2 separate regions of the Homo sapiens genome follow, and region 2 is linked to region 1. Evidence: fine-mapped expression QTL. A gene starts in region 1. The other region holds a variant in brackets. All regions are shown on one strand. Distances are between the middles of the regions.

Region 1 (15,235 bases):
CCCAAGTTTCTTACATAGCAAACCCCTGGAAGTGCTAGGATTGAAACCCAGGAGGTCTGGCTCCTACCCACGTCTGCCATGTCAGAGGAGGGTGTTGAGAGGTGGCCTTGATCTCGGGTTGTATGTTCCCCGTGTCCCGCTGCAGAGAGGAAGGAGATCCTGACTGGCACCAAGTGCATCTGGGTGAAGGCCGCCCGGCGGCGCTCGCGGGCCCTGGGAACCGAGGGGCGACACCTGCTGGCACCCGCGACAGAGCGCAGCAGCCTGTCCCTGCACTCACTGAGCGAGGGCGACGATGCGCGGCCACCAGGCCCACTGGCCTGCAAGCGGCCGCCCAGCCCCACACTACAGCATGCTGCCAGTGAGGACAACCTGTCCAGCAGCACGGGCGAGGCCCCGTCCCGGGCAGTCGGACATCATGGGGACGGCCCCAGGCCCTGGCTGCGTGGCCAGAAGAAAAGCCTGGGCAAGAAAAGGGAGGAGTCGCTGGAGGCAAAGAGAAGGAAGCGGAGGTCCCGATCCTTCGAGGTCACCGGGCAAGGGGTGAGGCGAGGCGCAGGGGTGGGTGTCTAGGCACTCCCATAGCAGCTGGAGGCCTGAGGGCTGGATTTCTCCAAAGGCTCCAGGGCACCTCTAGCCTACCCCATACCTGGAGGCACCACCCTCCACAGTCTCTGTCCCCAGCCTAGCATAGTAGCTGGGACAGATCCTGGTAGCAGATCCCTGTGCCGCTCTCGGCCTCACCCCACTGTTCAACCATCACAGCTCTCCCACCCCAAGACACACCTCCTGGGGCCCCATCAGGCGGAGCGCATCTCGGACCACAGGATGCCAGTGTGCAGGCACCCAGCCCCTGGTATCCGGCATCTGGGAAAGGTCACGCTACCTTTGGCCAAAGTCAAACTCCCTCCAAGCCAGAACACGGGTCAGTATGGGCAAGGAGGGGATGGGGAGGGGAGGCCTCCACCAGGCAGGGGAGCAGAGAAGACACATTGCATTTCCTGCGCCTCTGGCTGCCCCTTGCTGGAAGCATGGTTCTAGCAGAATACTCATGGGACTGGCATCCTGGGGTGGTGCCCCTAGAGAGTTCAAGGCCACTGGGTGATGGGAGAGGAGTTGGGGAGGCATTCCGAAACCACTGATCCTGCCCCTTTCCCTGTTGCAGGCCCGGGGGACTCCTCACCCCTGGCTGTTCCCCCCAACCCAGGTGGTGGTTCTCGACGGGCTACCCGTGGGCCCCGCCTGCCCCACGGCACAAGCACCCATGGCAAAGATGGATGCTCCCGGCATAACTGAGGGGCCCTGCCTGGAACTGGCTCTCTCACCTCCCAAGACTGAATGGGGTCTAGCAGGGCATGGGAGGTGGAGGCTGGGCAGATGGAGATGACCAGGAAGTAAGCTCAGGATCTCAGCAGGCCAGGGCTCCTGAGACCCAGGAACTGGGGTCTCTGCCCAACCCTCCCATGCTTTCAGTGCCACTGGGGAAAAGAGGTGAGGCCAGGGGACATGGCCAGGACGGCTGGGCTCCCTGGCTTCCCAGCCCTGGACAGAATGCTGTTGCCAAAACCTGCACAGCCCTGAGGCCAGCCTCGGCCTTGGTAACGGAGGAAAGCAGCTGACAGTGAGACGGGGCTCCTGGCCCACGTGTGGGGCACGGGCATCCTGGATGGTTGGGGAGGCGCCGACAGGCACTTCACGTATTACAATTGGGGATGTGGGTGAGGGAGGGAATCTGGTTTTGTTACTTGGCAGTGGTTTTTTCTCACCCTTCCTTTTTAACAATAAAATCCCATTTGGGTCTTGATGGTTGTGTTGGAAATTTGACCTTGTCTGGAATGTGGGGTGGCCATGACTAAGATTCAACCAACTCCCGCTCCCCCTAGTCCCCATCTACCCCTGGCTCGCTATATAGCACCAACCTACAAATACCTGGGGGAGAGGGGTTTTTCTCTAGATCCTGAGGCCTCTCCCCATGGTGGGGCTAGCAAGATCCGTTATGTCCCTATCCCACTGGCCTTCACACCTGCCCAGGCACCCTCCCAGGAGAGGTCAGGGACCTGAGGCGGCCCAGATGCCAGAAAGTCTCACAACCCAGATGAGGCGGTTGCCCCTCGAGGTCAGGGCTCAGAAACTGCCCAGCTAAGCCCCTCAGCCTCAAAGTGAGGAAACTCCTGCAAGGGGAATGGGGTGCTCCCTGACTCCCCCGCAAGGGGAATGGGGCGCTCCCTGTCTCCCAGGCAGGTGGGTTGCTGTGACCATGTGGATGCTTTTACCTGCCCTAGTTCTGTGTCTGGGTGGGGGGAAAGCTCAACAAAGGGGAGTGAAACCCCTAAACCCCCTGGCTTGTGGGACCCTCCCTGGGTTGTTTTTACCCAGAAACTGAGTGGTTCAATCATCCCTTTACCACTCTGAGCATCGGTTTATTCAGGACCAAGAACGTTCCTTCAAGTCAGCTGTGAAATCAGCTCTTGAAACCAGGCATCTTGTCTACCACGCCTCACCTGGACTCCACCCCAGCCCTAGGGTGGCCGGCGCCTGGCCATCCAGGGGACCAGGCTTGTTGCCACCTCCAGGCTCGCCTTGCCCTTCCCAGACCCACAGGGACCACCTAGGCCAGGCCTTTATTCCCAGACCCCGAGGCTACTTGGGGGTCCGGATAAGGGTGTGGTATACGGGCTTGACGATGAGGTGCAGGTGCAGGGCGTTCTCAACCAGGTACTCGGAGTTGCGCCGCTGCAGGTCGGCGTGCGCCAGGAAGTCGCCGGCCTCCTCGCTGCTCTGGTGGAAGCTGTAGGCGTGGCGGACCAGCAGGCGGCCCTGCTGGCGCGCCCCCACCAGCACCGTCTTCTGGAAGCTCACGCCCGCCGCGTCGCCGCCGCTGCTGGCCGGCGTCACCACCAGCCGCGGTCGGCCGTCCTCCGGGCGCGCGGCGGGCAGAGCAGTGCCCGCGGCGTCCGCGTAAACGGGCCGCAGGCTGACGGGCAGCCAGCGCGGCGAGAAGAGCACGTTCCAGGTGACCCGGCGGCCCGCGTCGTGGCCACTCGGGCCCAGCTGCGTCTGGAAGCTGGTGCTGCGGTCGTCGCGGGCCGGGTTGTTGATGACCCACGGGGCGCCCCAGGCGGGCGCGAGGTAGTTGCGGGGCAGGAAGGCGCTGCCGTTGACGTCGAAGAACTTGGCGTAGTGCAGCGGCGACGCGGCGTGGAACTGGTAGGCCTGCAGCAGGAGGTCGGCCACCGCGGGGCCGTGGCGCGCCAGGGCTGCCGAGCGCGCCTGCAGCTGGAACAGCTGTGCCGGTGGGATCATGGGGTAGCGTATGGCGCGCAGCGCCCGCTCGGCCACGGCAGGGGGCGGCCGCGCGCGACCCAGCCAGGCCTCCAGCGCGTGGAACAGCTCCAGTTCATCCTGCAGCACCAGGTCCGAGCGTTGCAGGAGCTGCCAGAGCAGCTCGGGGCTCACGGCGCCCCACTCGGTGCTGGCCGCCACGGCCGACAGGTTCCAGGCCAGGAACTGCAGGCAGCTCTCGCGCAGGGCCTCGTCCCCGGTGCCCACCGCGTAGTGGTACCAGCCCACCGCCGGGCCCGCGCCTCCCGCCAGGTGCGCGCGCATGTAGTCGGCCACGCCGCGCTGCAGGGAGGACACGCCGTACTTGGTGGCCAGTCTGTGCAGGGGGATGGCCTGGGTCAGCAGCACGGTCAGCTCCCCGCAGTACAGGTACCTGCGGGAGAGACCGAGAGGTGGGGCGGGGTCAGGGCGGTACCCACCTCCCAGGATAGATTTTTTAGAGTCCACAGGGGACCCGGCCTGGAGTTGGAGCTTCACTGTCCGGGTGCAAACACAGTGGAAGCCCCACCCTGAGGCTTCCCATGTTTTCCTTTCAAGGACCCTTCCAGGCCATTCTTACTTCACAGGCTCTTCTTTCCGTTTCCGCGGTGATGTAGAAATTGCCTGCATTGACTGTGCCTCTACTAGGCGTGCAGCCCTAGGCTGGAACAAAACAGACGTGGCTCCTGCCTTTGGGGTTTCCAGTCTGGTTGGGATCCATGGCCTGCCTTCTCCTTGCCATGAGTCTGGGCAAGTCACTTAACTTCAGTGAACCTTAGGCTAATCAATCACCTAGGAAAGGGGGAGTGGCACACACCCCTCAGGGTTACTGTGACAACCAGAGGAGAATAAAGAATCTTGCTACAGGCCAGGTGGGTGCTAGTGGCTCACACCTGGAATCTCAGCACTTTGGAAGGCCAAGATGGGAGGATTGCTTGAGGCCAGGAGTTCAAGACCAGCTTGGGCAACATAGCAAGACCCTATCTCTACAAAAAATAAAAAATGTTAAAACATTAGTCATGTGTGGTGGTGCACGCTTGTAGTCCCAGCTGCCTGGGAGTCTGAGGTGGGAAGATAGCTTCAGCCTAGGAGTTCAAGGCTGCAGTGAGCTATGATCATCATGCCACGACACTCCAGCTTTTTTTTTTTTTTTTTTTTTTTTTGAGATGGGGTCTTTCTGTATTGCTCAGGTTGGTCTCAAACTCCTGGACTTGAGCAGTCCTCCCACCTTGGCCTCTCAAAGTGCTGGGATTACAGGTGTGAGCCCCCATTTCTTTTTTGCAGCCTCACCTTTCTTTTTCCTCTCCTACTGTTGGTGATCACTTCTGCTGAGTATCTCTTCGTCTTACTTCTGCCACTGTCCCATGGCTCACCTTTCCTGCCAGTCCCCACCGGCACACGGCACCGCACTTGCCTCTATAGGAGTGTGGCAGCCACTGCCAGCCATCTTCCCCAACGTCCATTTCTCCCCTTTCCCCTGCGTGATTGCCTCTGGGAATAAAAGACCACATTTCCCAGGCTCCCTCATTCTGGCCTTGGCCATGTGACTAACTGCTGGTCAATGGGCGCAGTTTGGGATTTGCAGGAAGGCTGATTAAATGCAACTGATTCCGGGTTAACAGGAAGACCCTTTTTGCCCTTCTGTCTTATCCCCTTTCCTGTTGCCTGGAACTTGGAAGCAATGTATGGAATTCTGCAGGCATCTCGTCTGAGCCGTTAGAACAGAGTTACTTTCTTAGACACTAGTGTGAATGGCACCCCCTGAGCAGCATCACGGCAGGAGGCAGGAGGTGGAGAGAGCCGTCTAACTTTTTCAGCTCCCTAGCCCTGTGGTTCCAAACCTGGCCAAACACCAAAACCACAGCGATGCTTTCAAATAAAAAATATTCGTCTATAATGGAATATTTAGGAAAATAAAAAGTAAATAAATAAAATAAAATAAAAAATGATTGCTGGCCCTAACCCTAGACCTGAAACTGACAATCCAGGTTGGGATCCGTGAAACTGTAGTTTTTTTGTTTGTTTGTTTGGTTGGTTGGTTGGTTGGTTGGTTGATTTTTTTCAGACAGAATCCTGCTCTGTCACCCAGGCTGGAATCTAGTGGCACAATCTCAGCTCACTGCAAACCCAAACTCTGCCTCCCAGGTTCAAGCCATTCTCCTGCCTTAGCCTCCCAAATAGCTGGGATTACAGTCGTGTGCCACCACACCCAGCTAATTTTCTATATTTTTAGTAGAGACAGGGTTTCACCATGTTGGCCAGGCTGGTCTTGAACTCCTGACCTCAAGTGATCCACCTGCCTCAGCCTCCCAAATTGCTGGGATTACAGGCATGAGCCACCGTGCCCGGCCCCAAAACTGTAGTTTTTAAAAGCTGTCTATGGCCAGGTTTGGAAACAGCTCTGAGGGGGTTACTAGGAACCGAAAGTGACATCAAACTGCACAGATGACACGGGCAAAGACAGGGAGCTGTACAGTGGAAGAAGGGATGCAGGGGTCACTGTCATCCCAGTGATGTCCGGGGAAATGGACATAACAACCTCTAAGGGCCTGGGCTTCCCTGACCCTGTAGGTGGAGGAGCCGGGGGCTGAGGAAGGGATGAAGCCATCCCCTAGTCTTCCGCGTCCCCACCTGATGAACTTGTCGAAGACAGCGGCGCAGTCCTGTGGCTCCTGCAGCACCGCCTCGCTCTGGTTACTTAGCAGCTCCAGGAACAGCTCACTGTGCAGTCCCAGCAGCAGGCGGTGGGCGTGGAATACCCGGACCTCATCGGTGCCCGCAGCCTGCACCCGCAGAACCACATCGCTGGCGTTGCCCTGCCGCAGCAGCTCCTGCAAGCGCTGGAGCACCGCCTGGGAGTGGTTGATGGAGGTGCCAGCTGCCTCCCCGCCAACATCGGCTCTCTGTGCTGCAGCAGGAAGGAACACAGCATAGCCTGAGAAGGTGCCCGGGCCCAGAACCTCAGTCAGGGGTGGAGAGGGACCAGCTGGAGACATATGCATGGGTGTGAGCAGAGGGCAAGGTGGGCCTAGGCGGGTTGTATGTGCATACCTGTTTGTGCCCACGAGGCGCGTGGATGCATCGGTGCACATACAAACGCACCCTGGGTGGGAAGGTCATGCCAATGCAAACCCCAAGAGGATGCTCTTGGAAGGGGGTGCATTCAGGCAGGGGGAGGTTGTGCTCAGGTTTAGGACAACATGCCCAGAACTCATCTCCATGCTGCCAGCCCCCCAGGCAAGGGTTGAGGAAACTCGTGGTCCCACCCTTCTCACTTCCTAAAGAATTATCCATCTAACCCCTTGGAGCAGTAGTCAGAAGTGGTGCATTCACTAACAAATATTTATTGAGCACTTACTATATGCTAGACATTCTCCTAAGAGCTTGGGATGTGGCAGTGGACAAAGCAAGCCAAGTTCTTATGCTCATAAAAGCACGAATTGACATATCAAACGGGTAAGACACACACAAATAAGCACTCCAGTTTTAAAGGAGCCAGCCAGGGAACCAGTGTCAAGGCAGGCTCCAGCCCCGCAAAGGCCCTTGAACGGAATGGGCCTGGGGTACTGGGAGCAGAGAGAGCATTAGGGAGGCCACAGCAGTAGCAGGAGAGAGGGGCGGGTGTGAGACGAGGCTGCGGGTGTGGAAGGGAAGCTGTTTTCCAGGCCCAGCCCTGCCCTCTTGGGTCCTGATCTCTGAGACAGAAGCCGATTTTCTGGGGTGGCCAGCAGGGGACAGGAGAAAGTGCGAAGGGCCAGCTGGTGCTGGAATAGAACTTCCTGGGTAACTGAGCATTGAGGCTGGCCAGGCCGGCCCTTTGCTTATGCTCCAGGATGCCCCGACAGTCAGATGGGGATATGCACTCAGTTATAGAAACTGTCAGCAGCTTTCCCAAGCCGAGAACAGCGAGGGGAGCCTCGCAGAGGGAGGCGGGCGGGGGCCTGATTGCAGCAGATGGGCCGCAGCCACATGTGCACGCACAGCACATGCAGGCCCGTGGTGCACACAGGAGAGAAGGCTCACACAGGAGCAGAGCATCTGTGCATGAGAGAGGGAGGCCGAGGGACAAAGGGAGGGTGAAAGAGAAGCGGGTAGTATGTTTCCCAGCACGGCCTTCCCCAGCTGTCACTTTGAAGGACCTGAATGCTGATGGCGTCCCCATTCAGCCTCTGCCCAGGACAATGGGCAATGGAGGGTCCTCTTGTCCTTAAGAGCCCTGCCCACCTGCCTGCCAGGCCCCTCCTTCCTTCAGACAGATGAGTCCGTGGAGCTGTCCGGTCCACCCCGTGCTCTCCCCAGCAGCTGGACACCGCCCCCTCCTGGCCGGCCGCGTGCAGCCAGGGCTGGGACGACCTGCCGCTCCACCCTGCCCCGCACCTGGCCCACTGCCCGCTCACCTGCATGGGTGACCAGGCCCACCAAGGTCAGCATGGCCCAGAAGCTGCCCCAGGACCCAGGCTTGGAGTAGCCTCTCCTAGGCATCTTTATGCTCAGCCCCCAAGTCCACTGGAGGGACGGTGAAGCCCAGACCACTCTGCTCACATCCCTCTTCCTTATATAGGATCCGGCACAAGGGGACGGCACCCCCCTTCCTGCTTGGCCTCCCTCCCCCACTCAGCCTCCTCCATGGATTGGTGGAAACTGGCCCCAGCTGTTGCCCAGGCAACCACTTAAGCCAGAGAGCGGCAGCCCCGGGGGCTATTGTGCTGCCTGTGGGCCCCCAAGGGGAACAGATCCGGAACCCTCCTCCCCCAATCTCCTTACCACCCAGCAGGGCTAGCCGTGCCTCTCCCTGGAAAGTTTCAGGCTCTCTGCAGAATAGGCGAGGGGCTCCAGGACCACTGGCAGCCATTGGCCTGAGGGTCCCCAGTTCCCTCCCCCAACCCCAGGCCTCGGCCCTGGCACAGAGCACACTTGGCAGCGTCGTGCCTGGAGCACCATGGTGAGCCGGCTGCAAAGGAAGGGCCTGGAAGAGGAAAGGAGAGGCGGCTGAGGCTCCCACCCCTCCCCCACTCCCATTTTGGGGTGGGGCAGCTCCTCAGAGAGAAGCTCAGAGATCTCTCGAATAGGGGCCCATGGGCAACTGATGTCAGTTTCATATTCTTTGTTGAAGAAGGTTCCTGGAATGCTGTGGGGAGGGTGATGGGCTGGCAGGAAAGTTCTGTGGGGACTGTGACTGTCGCCTCCCCCAGGGGCAAGCTGAGCCAGGTGGCAGGGCTGGGCATAGAGCAGATGCACCCTGCCCCGTGCACCACTGCATGGGTGACCCCTGCCCAGAGCGGGGCTGGCCACCTTCTAGCTCTGCGCTCCAGCCAGCCCAAGGCTGGGGACTGTCTGCCCTGCTATTTCCTGACTTGAATTCTCCTTCCCCAAGTGGCCTCAGGTCTCTGGGTTCACCTCCTTGGAAGGCTTGTTTTACCAGCTTCTGTCTTATTTCCCACTGTAATTTTTCCTTTTCCAGGCTAAGGAGGCATGCTGCAGACCTGGTGTTTCACTCCCAATGTAAGGAAACTGAGGCAGGGAGCTAGGTTGCAGTCTCAGTTGGGTTAGTGCAGAGGAGTGCTCTTCTAAAAACAAAGGCAACAGAGAGAGGAAAGTGAGTCTGGAGCTCAGCAAAAGCGCGCGCGCATGTGTGTGTGTGTGTGTGTGTGTAGGGTGGCATGCTGTGAGTCCTCACCTTTGCAGGGAGCCAGCAGGGTCTGCCCCAGTTCTTCGTGGGAGGGACTCCTTTGAGCTTGGCTAACCGAAGTGGGTGACTCCCAAGGGATCTGACTCCGAGGCAGGGCTCTAGGTTGGGGATGAATTAAATCTTCCTCTCCCTGGCTCTCTGGATCCCAGGGGCCAGCTCGATGCATTGATTTCTGCCTCTGGCTGGCACAGAGACCCAGCAGCTCCACCCCCTCTCTGGAGCCGCAGAGAGAGCAAGAACTGGGTCTGGCACCTGCCTCGTCCGGGTTGGCAGAGTTGGAGCTCTCCAGCCCAGCGGAAACCCCTCCAGCTGCCCTGAGTTTCATGCCTGGCTCCCCTCGTCCAAATCCACTATCCCTTGCCCACTGGCTGCCCGCCTGCCCTTCCCATGGGCTGTACCATGTCCTGGCTCAACCCAGCAAGTCCAAGTCTCCATGCAGCAGGGCAGCCCTGGTCCCTGAGGGCATCCCAGCTTCCAAGCACAGTGCTTTCGATAGGAATGTTATTGATGATAAGAGAACCCGCTACTCAGAAAACTGTCGTTTGATATTTGTGCCTCTCAACTCCAGCCTCCTTCAGCCTCTGCATCAGTCATTCTTTGTTTTGTTTTGCTTTTCTAGAGGCAGAATCTCTCAGTCACCAAGGCTGGAGTGCAGTGACACAATCATAGCTCACTGCAGCCTCAAACTCCTAGGCCCAAGCGATCCTCCTGCCTCAGCCTCCCAAGTAGCTGGGACAAAGGCAGTGCCACCACGCCTAGCTAATTTTGTGTCAGTCATTCTTGAAGGGTAGCCACCTGCATTAGAATCTCCCATGCTCCACCTTGGAACCAGGATTTTCAGGGGCAGGGTCTGGCTGTCTGTATTTTCTAAGTACTCCCAGACAATTGTTATACGCACCCCAAGACAAGCGCTACCTACTAGAGCTAGATTGGTGGCATTTCAAGTGTGAAGGAAGCTGGGAGGCCCTGGATCATCAAGAAGACCCGGAAGAGTCACCTCTGACTCCCCATCTCTGACAGGCCCCACCTCCCATTATTTCTAATCTCCCTTATCCCTGGCCCTCTTCGAATGATTTAGAAACTAGCTTTCCACATAGAGGCATTCTCTGTTCTCATTTTCTTTTTTTCTTTTTTTTTGAGACGGAGTCCTGCACCATTGCCCAGGCTGGAGTGCAGTGGCACAATCTTGGCTCACTGCAAGCTCTGCCTCCTGGGTTCACACCATTCTCCTGCCTCAGCCTCCCGAGTAGCTGGGACTACAGGCGCCCACCACCACGCTCAGCTAATTTTTTGTACTTTCAGTAGAGACGGGGTTTTACCGTGTTAGCCGGGATGGTCTCAATCTCCTGACCTCGTGATCCGACCGCCTCGGCCTCCCAAAGTGCTGGGATTACAGGCGTGAGCCACCGTGCCCGGCCTCTCATTTTCGTAACAGAGCATTGCTGGAGTGTGTGTGTGTGTGTGTGTGTGTGTGTGTATGGTATGCATGTGCACATGTGTGTATGCAGTGCGTGTGTGTGCATGTGCCTATTTATATGTGTGTGCGTATTGTGTGTGTCCATGCATGTGCGTGGTGTGTGTGCATGCATATTTGTGGATATGTGTGTGTGGTATGTGTACATGCATATGTATGTGTGGGGGAGTGTCCTGGGGCGGGAGAGAGGAAGCCAGGTATTTGCCCTGAGCCCTTTTTTTTTTTCTTTTGAGATGAAGCCTCGCTCTGTCGCCCAGGCTGGAGTGCGGTGGCGCCATCTCAGCTCACTGCAACCTCCACCTTCTGGGTTCAAACAATTCTCCTGCCTCAGCCTCCTGTGTAGCTGGGATTACAGGTGTGCACTACTATGTGCAGCTAATTTTTGTATTTTTAGTAGAGATGAGGTTTCACCATGTTGGCCAGGCTGGTCTCGATCTCCTCACCTCAGGTGATCCTCCCGCCTTGGCCTCCCAAAGTGCTGGGATTACAGGCGTGGGCCACGGTGCTTGGCCAAGTCTTTGAGAGGAAGAATCTGCAGCACTGCATATATATATATATATATATACACACACACACACACACACACACACACACACACACACACACACACACACATATATTGGCCCCATGGATCTGGGAGCGCCATAATTCCTTGAAGGCAAGTCTGATGAATTCACAAGCCAGCACCATCCTAGAGAGGAGTGTTACTTCCCGCCCCAGACGGGAGTGTTTATAGCCCAAGCCATGTGTCTGAGGTCTTATGACCAGGAACCTCAGAGGCAGGATTTATTTTTCGAGTTCTGAGTTGTGCTTGACTTTTCTTTTTTCTGATTTTTGTTGTTGTTGTTGTTAGATATGGGGTCTCACTCTTTCACCCAGGCTGGAGTGTGGTGGCACTGTCATAGCTCACTGCAGCCTCAAATTCCTGGGCTCAAGCAATCCTCCAGCCTCAGCCTTCCAAGTAGCTGGGACCACAGGTATGAACCACTGCACCTGGCTACTTGACTTTTCTTTCCACAACCCCATGTTGTGTTTTTGTTTTGTTTTGTTTTGTTTTGTTTTGTTTGAGATGGAGTCTCACTCTGTCGCCAGGCTGGAGTACAGTGGTGCGATCTCAGCTCACTGCAACCTCTGCCTCCTGGGTGCAGGCGATTCTCCTGCCTTTGCCTCCGGAGTAGCTGGGACTACAGGTACCCACTACCTGTAGTGGCTGGCTAATTGTTGTATTTTTAGTAGAGACGGGGTTTCACCATGTTGGCCAGGATGGTCTCGATCTCCTGACCTCGTGATCTGCCCGCCTCGGCCTCCCCAAAGTGCTGGGATTACAGATGTGAGCCACCATGTCCAGCCCATGCTGTCTTTTTGGGGAAGTTTTTCCAATTGTGATAAGTGATCCCTTTGGACAAGGAATCTCTAGTACTGTAAAAGCAACGGAAAACTCTTGCAAGCTTGGGACCAGATAAAGAGTTTCTGAATCTGCAAAGGGGGTGATCAGACACTGGACTGTGGTAACACCTCAGAGGGGTGGGCTCCAGACGCAGCCTGGCCCTACCTGGCACCCTCCCTTGCATCTGTAGTGCCTCCTGTCCTGACTTAGGGTTCCCTGAGTCACTGGGCCACTTGGACTGGGGACAGGAGATCATGGGTTTAAGTTCCAGGCCCCGTGTACACAGGGGAGCACATAAAGGTAAATATGAGGCCGGGCATGATGTCTCACACCTTTAATTCCAGCACTTTGGGAGGCTGAGGCGGGTGGATCACTTGAGGTCAGGAGTTCAAGCCCAGCCCGGGCAACATGGTAAAACCCCGTCTCTACTAAAACTACAAATATTAGCCAAGCTTGGTGGCTGGTGACTGTAATCCCAGCTACTTGGGAGGCTGAGGCAGGAAAATCGCTTGAACCCGGGAAGCAGAGGTTGCAGTGAGCTGAGATTGCACCCCTGCACTCCAGCCTGGGCAACAGGGTGAGACTCTGTCTCAAACAAACAAAAACTTAAATAAGAAGGAATCCTTGGCCAGGTGTGGTGGCTCACATCTGTAATCCCAGCACTCTGGGAGGCCGAGGCAGGTGGATTGCATGAGCCCAGGAGCTCGAGACCAGCCTAGGCAACATGGCGAAACACCGTCTCTACAAAAAATACGAAAATTAGCTGGGCGTGTTGGTGCTTGCCTGTAATGCCAGCTATTTGGGAGGCTGAGATGGGAGGATCACTTGAGCCTGGGAGTTCGAGGCTGCAGTGAGCTATGATCACACCACTGTACCACAGCCTGGGTGACAGAGTGAGACCCTGTCTTGAGGGGTAGGGAGGCAGAAGGAAAAAAAAGAGAGAGAGAGACCCTGGTGCTCAGGCCTGGTGGCTCTGGCTGGACTGATCAGGGCTGAAGACTTCAGAGACCAAAAAGGTCAAGGTGTGGCCGGGTGCGGTGGCTCACACCTGTGATCCCAGCATTTTTGGGAGACCCAGGTGGGCATATCACCTGAGGCCAGGAGCTCAGGACCAGCCTGGCTAACACGGTGAAACCCCGTCTCTACTAAAAATACAAAAATTAGCCAGGCATGGTGGCAGGCACCTGTAATCCCAGCTACTTGGGAGGCTGAGGCAGGAGAATCACTGGAACCCAGGAGGCAGAGGTTGCAGTGAGCCGAGATAGCACCATTGCACTCCAGCCTGGGTGACAGAGCGAGACTCTGTCTCAAAAAGAAAAGAAAAAAAAAGTCAAGGTGTGCGGCTGGGTCTTCATAACATCTTTCACCTTGCCCAGGCTGGCTCAGAGGTGACTGCCTTAGTGGATAGGATCCCTTCCACCGTGGGCTAGCAGCCTACCCTGGTCACTGACACCACACCATGTAGGAAAGAATCGCCACCACCAAGAAGGGGCCTCTCACCTCTGTATAGGCTGTGTGCTGGCTGATGACGTGGTTGCCCTGTCCTGTCTGCTGCTGCCACTGAGCTGGACATCTCCAGGCTCCATCTCTTGAACCATGGATCCCAGCGTTGTTAGCAATGAGTATTATGATGTTGCCCATGGAGCAAAAGATCCAGTGGGTCCCCACTTCCCTGCAGGACATCACTGCTGTCCTGGGTACAGAAGCATATACTGAGGAAGACAAATCAATGGTGTCCCATGCACAGAAAAGCCAGCATTCTTGTCTCAGCCATTCCAGGTGGCTGAGGTCTCCACAGGTCACAGGGGGAAGCTGGGACCTCCGAATAAGGCCATCCAAGGACTCCAGCAGTTTCCGCCAGGTGAATCCAGCTGCCTCCCAGAACAGGCCTTCTATGGGGTGGGATGGTAAGTTGCTGGAAGGACGTGCATGGGGCATCATTGTAGCAAACTCAGTCCCCCTCCTCCATCTCTCCCTCTCCTCGCTCTGAATCCAGGGAGCTCTAGTTTTCTGTGTAGCCTGTGTGACAGCCTTGGTTGAAACCCTTGTGTTCCGTCTGAAGAATATTTAAGGTTTCCAGTCAAGTGTACATCCCTCAAAGAAACAAAGTGGGCTTGGCATGGTGACTCACACCTGTAATCCCAGCTCTTTGAGAGGCCAAGGCAGAAGGACCACTTGAAGCCTGGAGTTCCAGACCAGCCTCGGCAACACAGCGAGGCCCCAAACTCTCTCTATATCTATACATAAAATTTAAAAAACAAAGTGTAGGGACAGGGTGGGCACTCGGTAAATGTTGGCAGGGACCCTCCTTGCCCCTCACCCATGGCAGCTCCTTGAAGAGAGGGTCAGCCTCCTCTCACCCCTAGCCTCCTGCTGCAAGGAGGTGGTGGCCTGGGGCGTCATCTGTGCTACTTGCACTTTCTGGGGCTGGGGTCCCAGCACTCCACCAGAGGACCTGCCCTGAGCGGGCAGCTCCGTCTCCAGTCCCACTGTGCCACCCAGGGTGCCTAGCCAAACCATGGGACTTTCAGGCTTGCAGGGTCAGGATGTGGCCACCAGGGGGCAGCAGGGCCTGCGCTGTGAGTATCCGAGGGGGGGTTGGGATGGGGAGTTCCAGGCTCTGATGTGAGATCTAACTCCCAGAGCTGGGAAGCTCCCTATATTTCCTGCCATATTTTCTGCTGCATTCCCAGAGGACAGGCCATGGGAGGTGATTCCAGGGGGGCCTGAGCTCTCCTCCCGAGACCGTCCACGGGGCATCCATGTCCCGGGTACCTGCTTGTGGGCTGCTCTGGTCACTCTTCCTCTAGGGCAGGAGAGCCAGTCTGGCCTCTTCTGAGTGCACACCAGCAACGGCTGTTGTTTATTTGCCAGGGATTGATATTCTTGAGGGATGGTCCATTTCACCAGGGCCAGGGAAACAACAGCTTGCAGGACTGTGGTTTCCCAGCACCGGCTGCAGGCAGCCTCGTCCGGCTGCTCCCAGAGGATGCCCCACCCTGTGCACGGCTGCCTGCCATCCTGCCCCTGGGGGTAGCCTCCACCTCCCCCACCATGGCCACTGCAGGACTGACCCTGTGCACCTGGTCCCCTGAGCCTCTTGGGATCATAGCCCTGTCTGTGGCAGCCTTACCACTCCTACCTGGCACGACTTCCCCAACTCCTCACAGAGGTGCCCTACTCTCTTCCCTTTCAGTCTGGATGCTCATAGAGTCAGCACCCTGAGTCCTTCTGCCTGTCCCCAAAGTCCTCAGCCCCAGGTTTGACCCCAGCTGAACACAGGCCAGCTCACAGAGTGCCCCGGGGCACGAGGCAGCCCCCCAGAACCCCCATCCTGCCATCCTGCCTCTTCTCCTCACTTCCT
Region 2 (15,235 bases), 210 kb after region 1:
TATGTGGGGTAGGGTGTGTGTAATGTGTGTGTGGTGTGTGTGATGTGAGTGGTGTGTATGAGATGAGATGTGTGTAGTGTGTATGTGTGTACGTGTGTGTGGTGTGTTGGGTGGTGTGTGTAGTGTGTATATGTGTGCATGTGTGGGAGTGTATGTGGTGTGTGCGTGTCCATGTGTGGTGTACGTGTGTGGTATGTGGGGTGGTGTGTGGTGTATGTGTGTGGTATGTGGGGTGATGTGTGTAGTGTATGTATGTGTGTGCATGTGTGGGCGTGGAGGGTGTGGGTGGTGTGTGTGTACATGTGGTGTATGTGTGTGGTGTGTGTATGTGTGTGCATGTGTGGGGGGTGTGGGTGGTGTGTGTCTACATGTGGCGTATGTGTGTGGTGTGTGGGGTGGTGTGTGCATGTGTGGGCGTGGGGAGGTGTATGGGTGTGTGTGTGTGTACATGTGGTGTATATGTGTGGTGTGTGGGTTGGTGCGTGCATGTGTGTGGAGGGGAAGCAGGAGCTGGGAGTGATAAAGATGTCTCCCCTTGCAGCCTGCAGAGCCGGTTGCGAGCCCCGCCCTCTGTGCCTAGCTCTGGGCGCTAAGGAAAGGCTTGCCTGGCCCTCCCTGACTCTGCGTCAAGGGCTGCTCAACGTGCCTTTCTTGGGAAGAAGGGATCTGAGTCTGTGAAGGAGATGACGCACAGCTGCAGACTTTTCCAGAAAACATTCTCGCCATCCTTGTCTGGACAAACCACCGGGTGCACAGGGTTGTATTAGTCAGCTCTTTCTGGCTCACATTGCCATAGCAAAACTCCTAATCCCAGCATGCTGTAACCACAGAAGCTTGTTTCTCGCTCGTCTATACGCAAGCGGTGAGTCAGCATTGCTTGGGCACCAGGCTGCGGAGCCCAGTCCGCTAGAGGAGAGGGAAGGCACCGGGTGGCTCTCTGAGCCTCTGCTCAGAAGGCGCACATGCGGCTCCTGCTCACCGTTCATCGTCATAGGGTCAAGCCTGAAGTCAGTGGGAAGGAGAAGCACAGTCCTCTTACAGGACAAGGCGGCAAGTCACTGACCACAACCACAGAACCCACTACTGGAGGTTCCCTAACCGGGCTGGAAGGGTGCCCCGCAGCACACCGACTCCGTGCTTCTCGCTCATCCAAGGTCGGGGCAGGGAGAGGCTGCAGGGTCTGCTTAGAAACAGCCTGTGTGTGTTTCATTTTTTTAGCTAGGACCAGACAGTTTGCCAAATGCAAAGGACATGGCAATGCCACAGGGAACCCACCTTTGAAGCAGATGTACTCTGGGCCCTGGAGTCCCCCAGGAGATGACAAATTCCTTGAAGAGATGACCCACATCTGGGACATCCAGGCTTTTTCCATGTCAAGGCCAGCATCTGGAGCCGCTGTCCCTTCCCCAGCAGGCCCTTGTCCTTCTGTCTCTGAAACCTGTCCTGGAAAATGCTGTCCGCTCCAGGAGGGCAGAGCTAGGGGAGGACTGAGAATAATGAACACTGGCCATGAGGCACAGGAGGGCGGGGAGCCCGGGGCCCTGCCTGGCACTGCACCACACTGAGACCCCCACCATCGCTGCCCTTGAGGGACAGCTCTTGGGGCTTCCAGAAAGTTAAGATCTCATCAGTGAGGGGTGCGTTCTTAGGGCAAACTCGGGGCATGTGATGTGTAGGACAGTGTGAGTAGCCCACACATTTCTCTCTGCCTTTCGGGGCTGTGCTTGTCTTTCTGCTTCCTCGAAAACCGTCATCCTCCCTTCTCACTCTCCCAGGATGAGCTCAGACCACACCTCTCCTGGAAGGCATCCCTGCCTGCTCCAGGCCTTCCAGACCCCTCCCTCTGGGGTTCCTGTTACCTGCAATGCTTATTTCTGTATTTAATCTCATGTCCCTGTGCTGTCATTGTCCTGTTGCATGGCATCCATTTCCAGGTGAGGCTGTAGCCTCCACAAAGGCAGGACCAATCTGGGCACCCGGAGACGCAGACAGAGCTCGGCCCCAGCCTTGTGAGCTGAATTGGAGGGTGAGAGCTCCGATCCTTCCATATTTTCCAGGGGAGGGGATCAGGAATGTATTAAGGCATTGGGCCTCTCTTCTCTCACCTCTACTACCCGACGTCAATCCATTTGGGGAGTAGTTCTCAGTATCTTGTGCATCATGGTGAGAATGGGCAAGTGCCCAAGGATGGTGGACCCCACTGCCCACTTTCTTCCCTCCCCACTGGCACTCAAGGGAGACGTCACCAAGAGGGCAGCCTCCTGACCGGCTCTGGGCAATGGATGCCTCTTTGGGATCTTGTTACAAATACAGGGCTCTCTAGGGAGCAGGGTGTGGGGAGGGTCTTCCCAACATGGGGGCTGGGGTGCTATAGGGAGCCCGGCTCAGAGAGGGTCTCTACCTGACTCTGATGATGTGGGCCATGTAGCACAGTGAGGAAGGTTCTGGCCATAAGCTGGGAGCCCTGGCTCAGATTTTAAGGTCTGCTGTTCACTAGTTATATGACTTTAGGCAAATCAGCAAAAGTCTCTTAGCATCAGTCTCCTCATCTGTGAAATAGGAATAAAAATATTCACCCTGCTCAGTCCCAGGAGTTGAGCAAAGGCATTTGAAGGTGGTGGCATCCCTCTGGGAAACTTTCCTCTTTTGATCTTCTACGTACCATGCACTCTGTATATTTAAATCCTGCATACCCATCCCAACACCCCTGCCAGGTCACTTTTAAATAAGATGACTGGAGCTGGAAAGACGAACTAAACTGTCATGATGGGAAGTGGGGAGGTCAGGATTTGAACCCAGGTCTTCGGTGGGGTCCCACCTCTGGCTCTCATGATGCAAGGTACGGATTGCAACACTCAGGCAGGGGTGAGATGGGTTGAGAGATGGCAAGTGGAAGAGGCCTCCAAGTCTTATTTCATTCAATATCTGTTTGCAGAATAGCAGGAAGTATCTTCAGGGGAAATTAACAACACAACAAAGTCTGCTTCTGGGTGTCTGCTATGGATTGATGAGTTCCCCCAAAAATTCATATGTGGAAGCCCTAACCCGTAATGTGGTGATATTAGGAAATGAGCCTGTGGGAGGTAATTAGGGTTAGATGAGGTCATGAGGATCAGGCCTTCATTGTGGGATTAGTGCCCTTATCAGAAGAAGAAGAGAGATCTCACTTTCTTTCTTAGTCCATTTAGGCTGCTATTTTAAAATACCATAGACTGGGTGGGTTATGAACAACAGAAATGCATTACTCACAGTTGTGGAGGCTGGAAAGTCCAAGATCAAAGTGCTAGCAGATTCAGTGTCTGTTGCGCACTCACCTTCTGGTTCATAAAGAGTACTTTTTTTTGCTGTGTCTTCACATGGTGGAAGGGGCAAGACAGCTCTCTGGGGTCTCTTTTACAAGGGTACTAATCCTGTTCATAAGGGTTACACCCCCACAACTGAATTATCCCCAAGGATCCACCTCCTAATACCAACACACTGGGAATAAGTTTCAACACATGAATTCTGGAGAAACACAAACACTCAGACCATAGCACTCTCTCTGCCATACGAGGATACAGAAAGATGGCAGCCATCTGCAAGTCAAGAAGAGAGTCCTCACCAAACACCAAATCTACCAACATCTTGATCTTGACTTCCCAGCCTTCAGAACTATAATAAATAAAGGTCCCTTGTTTATAAACCACTCGGTTTATGGTATTTTGTTACAGCAGCCTGAGCTGACTGAGACAACGTCCTGGTGTCTGTCCCAATGCTTCACCGTTCTGGCTTTTCAGCATGAGTCACCTGTGCTCCTTCTCCCTGGAGGAGCCCTGTCTGGGGCAAGACCTTTGCAGAAACAGTGAGGCTTCTTGTCACTTTCCTCATTTGGAAATCAGGGATTTGGATGACAACTGGATTCCACCAACTGAGGTGTCTCTGAGGCCATTTGAAAGGCCCAGTTAGACAGAGGTTATCTTCCACAGCTCTTAGCCACTGCTGTTGGCAAACAAGGATTAGAAGAAACAGGAGACTTTCATGAAGCAGAGTTCCAGGATATGTTTTCTAGCTTCCTGGGTGACAAGAAGCAGTGAGGGCAGTGACAACTTCTTCATCTGACTTCCATTAGGAAGATTCCTTGGATTGCAGCTTCATAAAATTATTCTCTAGCTTCCTGGATGTGGAAGGCAGTTGCTTGGCAGATACCAAGACTTCATGCTCCCTGTTTGACCCTAGGGGCCTCAAAAGCAGGCTGTTCTGGATGTGAGGGAGGAGGGAGGGACAAGCTTAGGAGCTGCTTCTTCGGCCCTTTCCACAATATTATAAGCACCTAATTCTCTGCATACCTTCTAGTGCCCACCTAGAATGGGCACTAGACCTGAGTGGATACATACTCTTGGAAGGATCCAATCCCAGCAATAAGGTTGTTATTAACTAAGATAAAGGAAACCCACATTATACAGCTCCTCCTGTCTCTGGGTCAAGGGAGAGCGGGCAGGCAGGAGAGTCATCTTAGAACCGCATGCCATGTGTTCTCATTCCATCCAGCAGGTGACTTGTGCCAGGCACTGCTATCTACACTGGTGAACAAGACTGAGGCCCTGCAGGGTCCTGATGGGTACTAGAGGCTCTGGTTCCAATATGAGGAGGATGAACACTTCAGCACAGTTGTCTTTTTAGTAGACGGACCAGGAAATCAGAGGAGCTCTCTGTTACTCCATAAGGGCTGTGGTTCTCAGTAATAACTAATGGCTGTTGTTCTCAATAATAACTAATGGCTGTGGTTCTCAATAATAACTAATGGCTGTGGTTCTCAGTAATAACTAATGGCTGTGGTTCTCAGTAATAACTAATGGCTGTGGTTCTCAGTAATAACTAATGGCTGTGGTTCTCAGTAATAACTAATGGCTGTGGTTCTCAGTAATAACTAATGGCTGAGGTTCTCAGTAATAACTAATGGCTGTGGTTCTTAGTAATAACTAATGGCTGTGGTTCTCAATAATAACTAATGGTTGTGGTTCTCAGTAATAACTAATGGTTGTGGTTCTCAATAATAACTAATGGCTGTGGTTCTCAGTAATAACTAATGGCTGTGGTTCTCAGTAATAACTAATGGCTGAGGTTCTCAGTAATGACCAAAATCCAGCAGCAATGCATTATAGTCAATGGTAGAACACTGCTGCATTTTGGTCATTCCTTGAAACCCATTTGCTTGAAACTCAGTTCTGCTACAATTGCAGGGATGTATGCAGGAAAAATATTAACTCAGCAGGCTTAGGTTGTCCAAAGCCTGCACCTTCCCGAAAAAAGTTTAGCCCTTGCTTTGCTTCTAGGAGATAAGCTCTAAACCCTTGGAATATCCTGCCTGGTTAGATTGTCTTTTTTTATCTGGGGGCTTTGATGCCATGCTGGATAGCTCATGTTAACCATGTGATTATGGTGGGGGCTTCTAGCCATGCTAGATGGTTGATGCTATCAATGTAATTCATGGGTGGGTAGGGGGAACTTTGAGCTATGTAGTTTTAATTTGATCTCTGGCGACTTAGGCACTGAGGTCAGTTCTACAGGTGTTCCATGACTATGTGACTGACCCCAGTGAACTCTCTGGATACCAAGGCTTGGGTGAGCATCCCTGGATGGAGCACTTTGTGTGTGTTGTCACACATTGTTGCTAGGATGGGAGAATTAAACACTGTCTGCAAAATCCCACTGGGAGAGGACAGCTGGCAGCTTGCACCACGCACTTTTTACCTTTACTGGTTTTAATCCATATCCTTTCAGTGTAATAAACCATAACCATGCATATAACAGCTTTTCTGAGTTCTGAGTCCTTCTAGTGTAGCCGAGTCCAAAGCTCAAACTGCTTGCCAAGCAACAGCCAGTAAGTCGAGAGACAAGCTGTTGGGGCAAGGAAGATGGCTTTACAAGGCAGCAAACCAAAGAGATGGTGGACTCATGTCCTAAAGAGCAATCATAAAAGGCATGAACCTCAAGCTTCTTTTTATATTGGGGAAGGCAGAACAAGGAGGAGGTTGAGCCGGGTAGTGACAGGTGACCACAGACATCTGGGTGTCAGCTGAGGAGGTTGCATTAACTTCTTTGTTCTTGGTCAGGTCACAATGCTCCTATAAATCGTTAGCATAACATTGTTACTGTGTGTATGTCTTCCTTATTGCTTCAGGGGTGTTGCAAAGGGACTATTATCATCCTTGCTTTAAAGTGAAACTATAGCCAGGTGTGATGGCTCATGCCTGTAATCCCAGCAATTTGGGAGGCCAAGGCAGGCAGATCACCTGAGGTCAGGAGTTCGAGACCAGCCTGGCCAACAGGGTGAAACCTTGTCTCTACTAAAAATACAAAAGTTAGCCGGGTGTGGTGGTGCACACCTGTAGTCCCACCTAGTCAGGAGGCTGAGGCAGGAGAATTGCTTGAACTCAGGAGGCAGAGGTTGCAGTGAGCCGAGATCGCGCCACTGCACTCCAGCCTGAGCAACAGAGCGAGACTCTATCTCAAAAAAAAAAAAGAAAGAAAGAAAGAAAAGAAAAAAAGTTAAACTATACACTAAATTCCTCCCACAGTTAGTTTGGGTTATATGCTAAAGATATTGCAGGGTAGGGGTGTGGTCAGGAGCAAAATGGAGTTTGTTATTCTAGACCTCCTTTTCATGGTTATGCTAGTGAATCATTAAACCTGGGAGTGGTATTGGGTACCCCCAATAAGAGATGGAAAGTTTGACTGAATTTTAGTGCAATATGATAACAGAGGGGAGAGCCACCTGTTGTGATGATAGGGAAGCGGGGTAAGGTACCATCAAGCTAGCTTCCAGTGAAAAAGAGTGTTTACCCAGGAGTACTAGGTCCCACAGGTACAGGAGGGAGTACGGCAAATGAGGTGAGAAATTCTACTCAAATAGTGGCCAGGCACAGTGGCTCATGCCTGTAATCATTGCACTTTGGGAGGCCAAGGCAGGCCAATCACCTGAGGTCAGGAGTTCGAGACCAGCCTTGCCAACATGATGAAACCCCATCTCTACTAAAAATACAAAAAATTAGCTGAGCGTGGTGGTGCACATCTGTAATCCCAGCTACTCGGGAGGCTGAGGCAGGAGAACCGCTTGAACCCGGGAGTTGGAGGTTGCAATGAGCCGAGATCATGCCGCTACACTCCAGCCTGGGCGACAGATTGAGACTCTGTCTCAAAGAAAAAAAAAAAAGAAAAAGAAAAAGAAAAAGAAAAGAAATTCTACTCAAATAGTGATCTTGTTGGGAAGATGTCCAAGTTAATTCAGTTACAGAGATCAACATCATATATCTTTCATTTCATTAGACTTGTCAACATCTTTCCAAGGAAATTGCTTTTGGATTTGTCATGGATATTCGATTTTGCTTTATTTGTTTGCTATCATTTTTGTAATTAGTTTCTGCTACATTAGACCCTTTATCCATCAATACCACAGTGTTTATTCAAATATATTCCCACTACATGTCTATGAATGTTATTGATTATTGAGTATTGACTAGAGAAAGAATCTCTTATATGGGTAGCAAGAACAGAGAAGTTAGCTTATAGAAAGAATTAAATCAGTAAATTTAGACGCAATTGTGCAAATTAGCTAGTCTTGACAGGAAAGAGAAACTTTGAGATATTCGACAAAATAAGAAAGGAAAATGGCAGAATGAGAATCGATTTGCATTCTTTCAACCATAAGAATGAGGATGTTGATCTGGTTAACTGCCTCTTGCTAGTAGATCTGGGGAGGAATTGGAAAGACAAAGATTGAGGTCGTGAAGGGGAAGAATAAGACAAGTAAAGCACAGTCACGTTGAGCTGCTGGTTTTGGTGACCTATGGCTCCCCGGCGGCTGTGATTGGAGTCTGAAGCTGAGAAGTCATGAGGCTAAATGTCCCGATTGTCTTGCCAAGCTGCTTAGACCTTGCCACTTAGACCTTGTTGCTTAGAAGGAGACACCAGAAACCAGGAACTTGAGGCTGGGATAAAGCAGATGCTTTCTCTCCTGGTGCTCTGGGAAGGGAGTTTGAAGTAATCTAGGCAGCTTGCTGCTTGTGCCTTCATCCTGGCGGGCAAAATCACCTTGAGTGGAGGTAGAACACGTGTATCTGCCAAACTGTGATTCTCTAAGGGCAAGGATTACATCTCTGTTTTTTTGTTTGTTTGTTGGTTTTTGAGACGGAGTCAGGCTAGAGTGCAGTGGCGCCATCTTGGCTCACTGCAAGCTCTGCCTCCCGGGTTCACGCCATTCTCCTGCCTCAGCCTCCCAAGTAGCTGGGACTACAGGCGCCCGCCACCACGTCCTGCTAATTTTTTGTATTTTTAGTAGAGACGGGGTTTCACCGTGTTAGCCAGGATGGTCTTGATCTCCTGACCTCGTGACCCGCCCGCCTCGGCCTCCCAAAGTGCTGGGATTACAGGCGTGAGCCACCGCGCCCGGCCCCCAAAAGGAAACTCTTGATTTGACCTCCTGCAAACTCCCCAGCCTGATCCTCTTCTCATCACAGTAAATTACACCCATGGTCCCCTTTTTCTCAGACCAAACTCCAGTCACCTGGGCAACATCCTTGGCTCATCTTTTGCTC[G/A]TGCCCCAGCCATTGTGTTAACCCAAGACCCTCAGATCTGTCCACTTTTCTCCATTGCCCTCCCACCCCCCTCTTTCTCCCTGATTACCACAGGGCCTTCCCTCTTGAACAGGCACAAGAGCTCCCCAGTCTGACTCTTGTCCCTATTCACTGTGGCTAGATTGCACTTTTAAAAACAGTTACCAGAGGCGGGGCGGGTGGATCACCTGAGGTCAGGAGTTTGAGACCAGCCTGATCAATATGTTGAAACCCCGTCTCTGCTAAAAATACAAAAATTAACTGGGCGTGGTGGCATGTGCCTGTATTCCCAGCTACTCGGGAAGCTGAAGCAGGAGAATTGCTTGAAGCCAGGATGCAGAGGTTGCAGTGAGCCAAGATCGCGCCACTGCACTCCCGCCTGGGTGACAGAACGAGGCTCCGTCTCAAAAAAAAAAAAAACAAGCAAACAAAAAAACCAACAATGAATATCATCAATACAAAAACCACCATACTGACAATATTAGTACGGGGAAGAGGATGGTGGGAAAAGAGGAAGATACAGAAGTCCTCATCTTTTGCTGCAGAGAGTCAATAGAAAGATTCAATAATGTTGTTAAAAACAAGATGAGAACGTGGGAGCTCAGAGAGTGTTATGAGTTGGTGGGGTGTCCACACTGGGTGGGGGCTGGGAGCAGCGCTGGTCAGAGCCTGGGCAGCAGACAGGACATGGGTCAGCCCAGAGAGGGGCGGCAGAGCTCATGAAGGGTGAGGCTGGGGGTGGGGGAGTCTGGATAATAACCATGATTTCATCATTTTCTAGCTGAGTGATCCTTTATCTTTGAGCCTGTAGACTGCCTTCACGGCACTTACCCAGGTCTTTTTCTTTATTTCGGTGATAGTTGTACTTGAACAGTGCCTGATACTTAGTGGATGCTTAGTAAATGTTTTCGCTTATTTTTTATTTTTATTTATGTATTTTTTGTGACAGAGTCTCCCTCAATCACCCAGGCTGGAGTGCAGTGGTGCAATCTGGACTTACTGCAACCTCCACCTCCCAGGCTCAAGAGATTCTCATGTCTCAGCCTCCCAAGTAGCTGGGATTATAGGTGTGCGCCACCATACCCAGCTAAGTTTTGTACTTTTAGTAGAGATGGGGTTTCACCATGTTGGCCAGGATGGTCTCAAAGTCCTGGCCTCAAGTGATCTACCCACCTCGGCCTCCCAAAGTTCTGGGATTACAGGAGTGAGCCACTGCGCCCAGCATTTTGGAATGAATGATGGTGGGGAGTGAATAAGGGTCTCACCTGGGTACAGAGATTGACCTGACAGAGGGCAGTTGGGTGATCCTGGTTCATGTTCCCAGAAGGGAATTTCTGTTATTTAGCCTCTGTCTTAACCACCAGATGATCCCACTGGGCAGGGGGCTCAGTCATTAGAGTCCAAGACTGAGCACCACCCTGGGGACCCAGGCAGGCGGTACTGAGGACCCAGCCATCCCCAGCTCACAGTTCTAGCTCTGGCATCCAGTTTATGGATTATGTCACAGTCCCCAAAATGTATGGGTGATCTCCCCATATACCCCAAATTGAGAGTAGCAGCCAACTGCAATACTCTTAAAAGAGGTAAGAAAATGTAACAATCAACACTAATAGAAAAGTCTTACAGTGACGAAAGGAGGCTGTGTTTTCCCATCATCTTCAATCGTACTCATCCAGGAATCTCCTGACTTCCCTTCCCCACAAGTGGCAGGAGAGCAGCTGGCACGGCAGCCCGGAAACCTCTGCTCTCTTCTGTACTCATCTTCCCTTAAGTTGGCCCATTACCAGAGTTTGGTTCCGTTTTTCTGTTTTCATGGGTTTAGGATTTTGAAACCCATTATTGACTGGAGACTTGAACCCCACGGAATGCAAAGACAGGTCCGTTAACATTGCATGTGGCTCACAGACCTGAGATCACGAATGTCCACTACGGCATAGGTGCCTCTCGGGGGAAACACATTCTTCTCATGTTTTCTACTGCATTGGAGACCTCAGAAGGAAGAAGGGCTCTGTCAGGCCCCAGGGACTGTGCAGAGAAGGGAATAGCCCCAGGTGGCACGGCTGCAGGAGATAGGGGACTAGGAGGCTGTTCCCTGAAGCTGGGGCCAGCACTGCCTCTAGAACCACAGTCAATTCCCCATAGAAATGTTGTTTTTCTGCCAGGTGCGGTGGCTCACACCTGTAATCCCACCACTTTGGGAGGCGAAGCGGGAGGATCTCTTGAGGTCAAGAGTTCGAGACCAGCCTGGGCAACGTGGTGGAAGCCCATCTCTACAAAAAAATTTAAAAATTAGCTGGGGGTGGTGGCATGTGCCTGTAGCCCCAGCTACTCTGGAGGTTGAGGCAGGAGGATCGCTTGAGCCTGGGAGGGGAAAGTTGCAGTGAGCAGAGATTACACCATTGCATTCCAGCCTGGGTGACAGAGCAAGACTCTATCTCTAGAAAGAAAAAAAGAAGAGAAAAGAAAATGTTTTTTCTTCTGTGGGAGGGCCTTTCGCCCTGGACAGGACGTCAATGGGCATTGGGACTCTCATCATCGGGCTGACTCCTCCTCCTTCAAGACCTTCTTTGTGGTCTGTTTACCCAGAGGACGGTCCCCAGCATGCTCAGGAGCAGAGGCAGCTCCAGGAGGAACAGGAACAGGAAGTGGGTGCTCTTGAGCGGGGACCTGTGGGAACACGGTGACAGGAAATGAGCTGCCTCCTGGGTCAGAGGTCTCAGGTCTTCTCAGCTCTATGCCCAGATCCTGGCTTCCAATGTCTATGTGAGGGTAAGCCTGGAACCCCAGACAGGCCAGCCCCTTTGGTGGGGCACAGTCACACTGCTCACCAGCGAGGCTCCCAGTCCTCCCTACACCTCCAGTAAACTCAGCCTGGCATTCAAGGTCCCGTCTGCCAACTCCCATCCGGCCTTTTTGGCTGGTCTCCCATAACTCCTCCTCACCTATCTTGAAGGGGTTTAGCATTCCCTGTCTCTACTTACCTCGGCTTCTGCTGCATTCTGCACCCAGAGGGCCTCTCCGCCCTCATCGCTGCCTGTGCAAACGCTACCCACCTTTCAGGTATCAGATCTGACATCATATTCTTGAAGGCCTTGGAGGCTGACCTTGCTCTGACCCTCTTCCTGTGGACCAGCACCTGGCCCTGGGGTTCCTTATGTTCCCTGTTACTTTCTATGGATGTGTAAGGCCCAGAACCTTATTGACCATCAATTCCACCCCCTCACCATCCTCCACCCACTTCCCAGGGTCTCGACCTCCCAACTTGGGCCTTCGTTGTTTCTTTCACCTCAGCGCAACTTGAAGCCACTCTCAGCTCACGGATAAATTTTAAAAATCAGGCCAGGCGTGGTGGTTCGCACGTGTAATCCCAGCACTTTGGGAGGCCAAGGCAGGTGGATTGCTTGAGCCCAAGAGTTCAAGACCAGCCTGGGCAACATATTGAGGCCCCATCTCTAAAAAAAAAAAAAAAAAAGACAGAAAAGAAAATTCAAAATTATATCCAACTCCAGAATGCCGGATGAGCCCTCAGATGATGGGACTGAGGGTATTTGGGGGAGATGGAGGAGGGGCTATACAGCAGGCCACGGGTCAAAATGCCCCCAAAGGTCCTTCCCAGCATCTTCACTCTTGGGGCTCTCCTGCTACACCTCTGGAGTCCTTTGCCCTCTGTCCCCTGACAGCTAAAGTCCCATCAGTTTGCACAAAAGCATGGAGGAGGAAAAAAACAAACAAAAAAAAAACAGTCGAGGAGTCCTAAAGCCAGCTCCGTGGGTGGAGCTCTGCAGATGCATTCTCAGAACTCAAGATCGAGTGAATAAAAAAAAAAAAACAGAGTTGAACTGCAGAGGGAACTGGCAGACCTTGAGGAGTAGTTCCAGGAGGACTGAGCCAGAGACACGGGCCTCTGCGCTGGGCTCTAGCAGGAGCAGGACGGTCTGTGGTTTGGGCTCTGGCCTTGACCTGGGGGGCTTGACCACAGCAGGCCGTGATGGAACCCAACGGCTAGCTATCAGGTGCCGACCTCTGGGGACTCCTCTGGACACCTCCAGGGCTGGTGAGCATCAGACTAATCCTCCAGACCCCTCTGCCAGCTTGGGAGGGTGAGAACGCCAAACTTCCAGCTTCCCCCTTTCCCTCTAGCATTTTCCATTCCCCTACTCTGGTGTCTTGGGAGAGAGAGGCTGGAACAATATTTGTTCTTGGGCAGAAACTAGGAGCAGATGAGAGAGGTGTCTCTCCTAACCCACTAAAGGCCAAACCTCGATATGCCCTCTTGACCCCAGGAGGTGGGGAGGGCATGTTCAGGCCCCTCTCCTGCCACCTTCAGTCATGTGGTGGCTCATGTCTGTGCTGCAGAGTTTGCCTTCATGTAGCCAACACTTAGATGGGAAATCTTATTTTCCTCAAAGGTAAACTGAGATTGGGGCAGGCCATCGGAGGTTTGCAGTGACTTTACTGATACAAAGACGAAACAGCAGGGGCCTATGGGGGTCCCAGCCTGAGTACCCCCAGAAAACAGGGCTATCAGAGTTAACAAATAAAAGCATAGAATGCTCAGTTAAATTTGAAGTTCAGATAAACAACATATGCTTTTTTAGTATAAGTATAGCCCATGAAATAGTTGGGATATACTTATGCTAAAAAATGTTTTGTTGTTTGTCTGAAATTGCAGTGTAACTGGGCATGCTATTGTTGTATCTGGCAACCCCTGTTAGAGGAGAGGCCATGGGGCCAGGCCTGTGCGAAAGTGGTGGGACCTGGCTCCACCTACCTGGTGAGGGGGCTGCTGGTCTTCTGGGTGGCTGCAGCTGTGAAAGCCAGGCTTGCTGTTGTGGTTGTCCATTCTGAGACTGCAGTTTGTGTGCCTAAACATACAAAGCAGAACACGGTTCACCCCTTCCATGGATGGCCCAGCTCTGGCTGTGGCCCTAAGGCTTCTCCACCTAGGAATTAAGGAGCCTCTGCCTTGGGGTCCAAGACTGTCTGGTCAGCATCCAAAATATTACATGAATTATCTTCTAAAGAGAAGTTACTGAATTATTACCATGTGAGAAATTCTGAGGAGCAGACTAAGGAGGGAATTTGCAATCATCAGTTGCATGGCACAGCTTAGCACACTCGATAGCATTCCGCTCTCCTCGGGCTAGGCTAGCTCTTTTCTGAGTCTCGGCCACAGCCGAGGTGAACTCCTTACCGCCTGTTCTGGAGTGATTCGGCGGCTGAGCTGGTGGCCCCCTCGCTGAGCCACTTCTGGAGAGCCCCGGATTCCTGGCTCTCTGCAGCCAGGCCCAGCGCCCTCCACCTCCGCTCTTCCCTCTCTGGCCGTTTCCTGTCTTCCAGCAGCTTCCCAATCTCACCCTCCCTACCCCTGTTGAAGTCTGGCTATGTCTGATGCATCCCAGCCTCTGCTGTGTGCCAATTCCTGCTGGACCACACCCTACTCACGCTGACGGTGTGTGTAGTGAGTTTTGATATTCAAAGTTTGCTTCAGGAGCAATCTAATAATAAGAGATCACAGCATCATATTTGTCTTTTTATATCATTTTTCTGGGATTAAATCAAGGTATAACTGACACATAATAAACTGTAAATATTTAAAGAGAACAATATGTTAAACTCTGATGTATGTGTATACCCGGTAACACCACCACCATGATCAGGACAGTCAACACATTCATAATCCCCATGCCCGCCCTCCCCCTTACTCTGTCCCCAGGTGTTAGGGACTGAACTGTGGACCCCTAAAAATTATATGTTGATATGCTAGTCCCCAGTACCTCAAAATGTGACTATATTTGGAGATAGGACCTTTCAAGAGGCAATTAAGTTAAAATGAGTTTGTTAGGGTAAGTCCTAATGCCATCTGACTGGTATCGTTCTCTGAAGAGGAGATGAGGACACACAGGGAGACACCAAGGCATGCGAGCACAGAGGGGCAACCGCAAGAAGGGGTAGCAAGAAGGCAGCCACCTGCAAGCCAGGGAGGGAGGCCTCAGGCTCAACTGAACCTGCCAACACCTTGATCTCGGACTTCCAGCCTCCAGAACTATGAGAAATACGTTTCTGTTGTTTACGCCACCCAGTCTGTGGTATTTTGTTGTGACAGCCTTAGCTAAGGGATGATCCATTTTCTCTTACTATCTATGAGTTGGCATTTTCCAGAATCTAATATAAATGGAATCATACAGTGTAAATCAGCTTTTGAGCTGGTTTCTTTCACTCAGCATAACTATTTTATCATTGGTATATCAGTAGAACATTCCCTTTTATTGCAAGTTGTATTCCATTGCATGAGTATTTCACTTTTTTTTTTTTTTTTTTTTTGAGACAGAGTCTCTCTCTGTCACTCAGGTTGCAGTGCAGTGGCATGATCTTGGCTCACTGCAACCACTGCCTCCCAGGTTCAAGCAATTCTCTGCCTCACCCTCCCAAGCATCTGGGACTACAGGTTAGTGCCACCATAGCCAGCTAATTTTTTTTTATTTTTAGTAGAGATGGGGTTTTGTCATGTTGGCTAGGCTGGTCTCAAACTCCTAGCCTCAAGTGATCCACCTGCCTCAGCCTTAACAAAGTGCTGGGATTACAGGCGTGAACCACCACGCCCAGCCTGTATTTCACATTTTTAAAAAAATCCACTCACTTGA

Evidence for each region.
Region 2: its variant is fine-mapped to the expression of BTBD17 in cerebellar hemisphere (GTEx, PIP 0.97).

The regions. Positions count from the first base shown.
Region 1 is chr17:74,354,017-74,369,251 of GRCh38, forward strand. It overlaps BTBD17 (BTB domain containing 17), which reads right to left and starts at 7,852. Exons shown (of 3, transcript NM_001080466.2): 1 at 7,719-7,852; 2 at 5,953-6,229; 3 at 2,400-3,715. The coding sequence starts at 7,803. The coding sequence ends at 2,641. It overlaps KIF19 (kinesin family member 19), which reads left to right. Exons shown (of 20, transcript NM_153209.4): 18 at 146-543; 19 at 766-925; 20 at 1,166-1,804. The coding sequence ends at 1,296. It overlaps GPR142 (G protein-coupled receptor 142), which reads left to right and starts at 13,490. Exons shown (of 4, transcript NM_001331076.1): 1 at 13,490-13,778. RefSeq lists enhancers at 68-117, 2,939-3,811, 14,104-15,092 and silencers at 7,544-7,593, 7,674-7,723.
Region 2 is chr17:74,568,856-74,584,090 of GRCh38, forward strand. It overlaps CD300LD (CD300 molecule like family member d), which reads right to left. Exons shown (of 4, transcript NM_001115152.2): 3 at 13,363-13,456; 4 at 10,510-11,258. The coding sequence ends at 11,147. Among named protein-coding and RNA genes, the nearest start is that of CD300LD-AS1, 8.2 kb to the right of the region's middle. RefSeq lists enhancers at 1-731, 732-1,461. The variant G/A (reference allele first, on the strand shown) is at 8,574.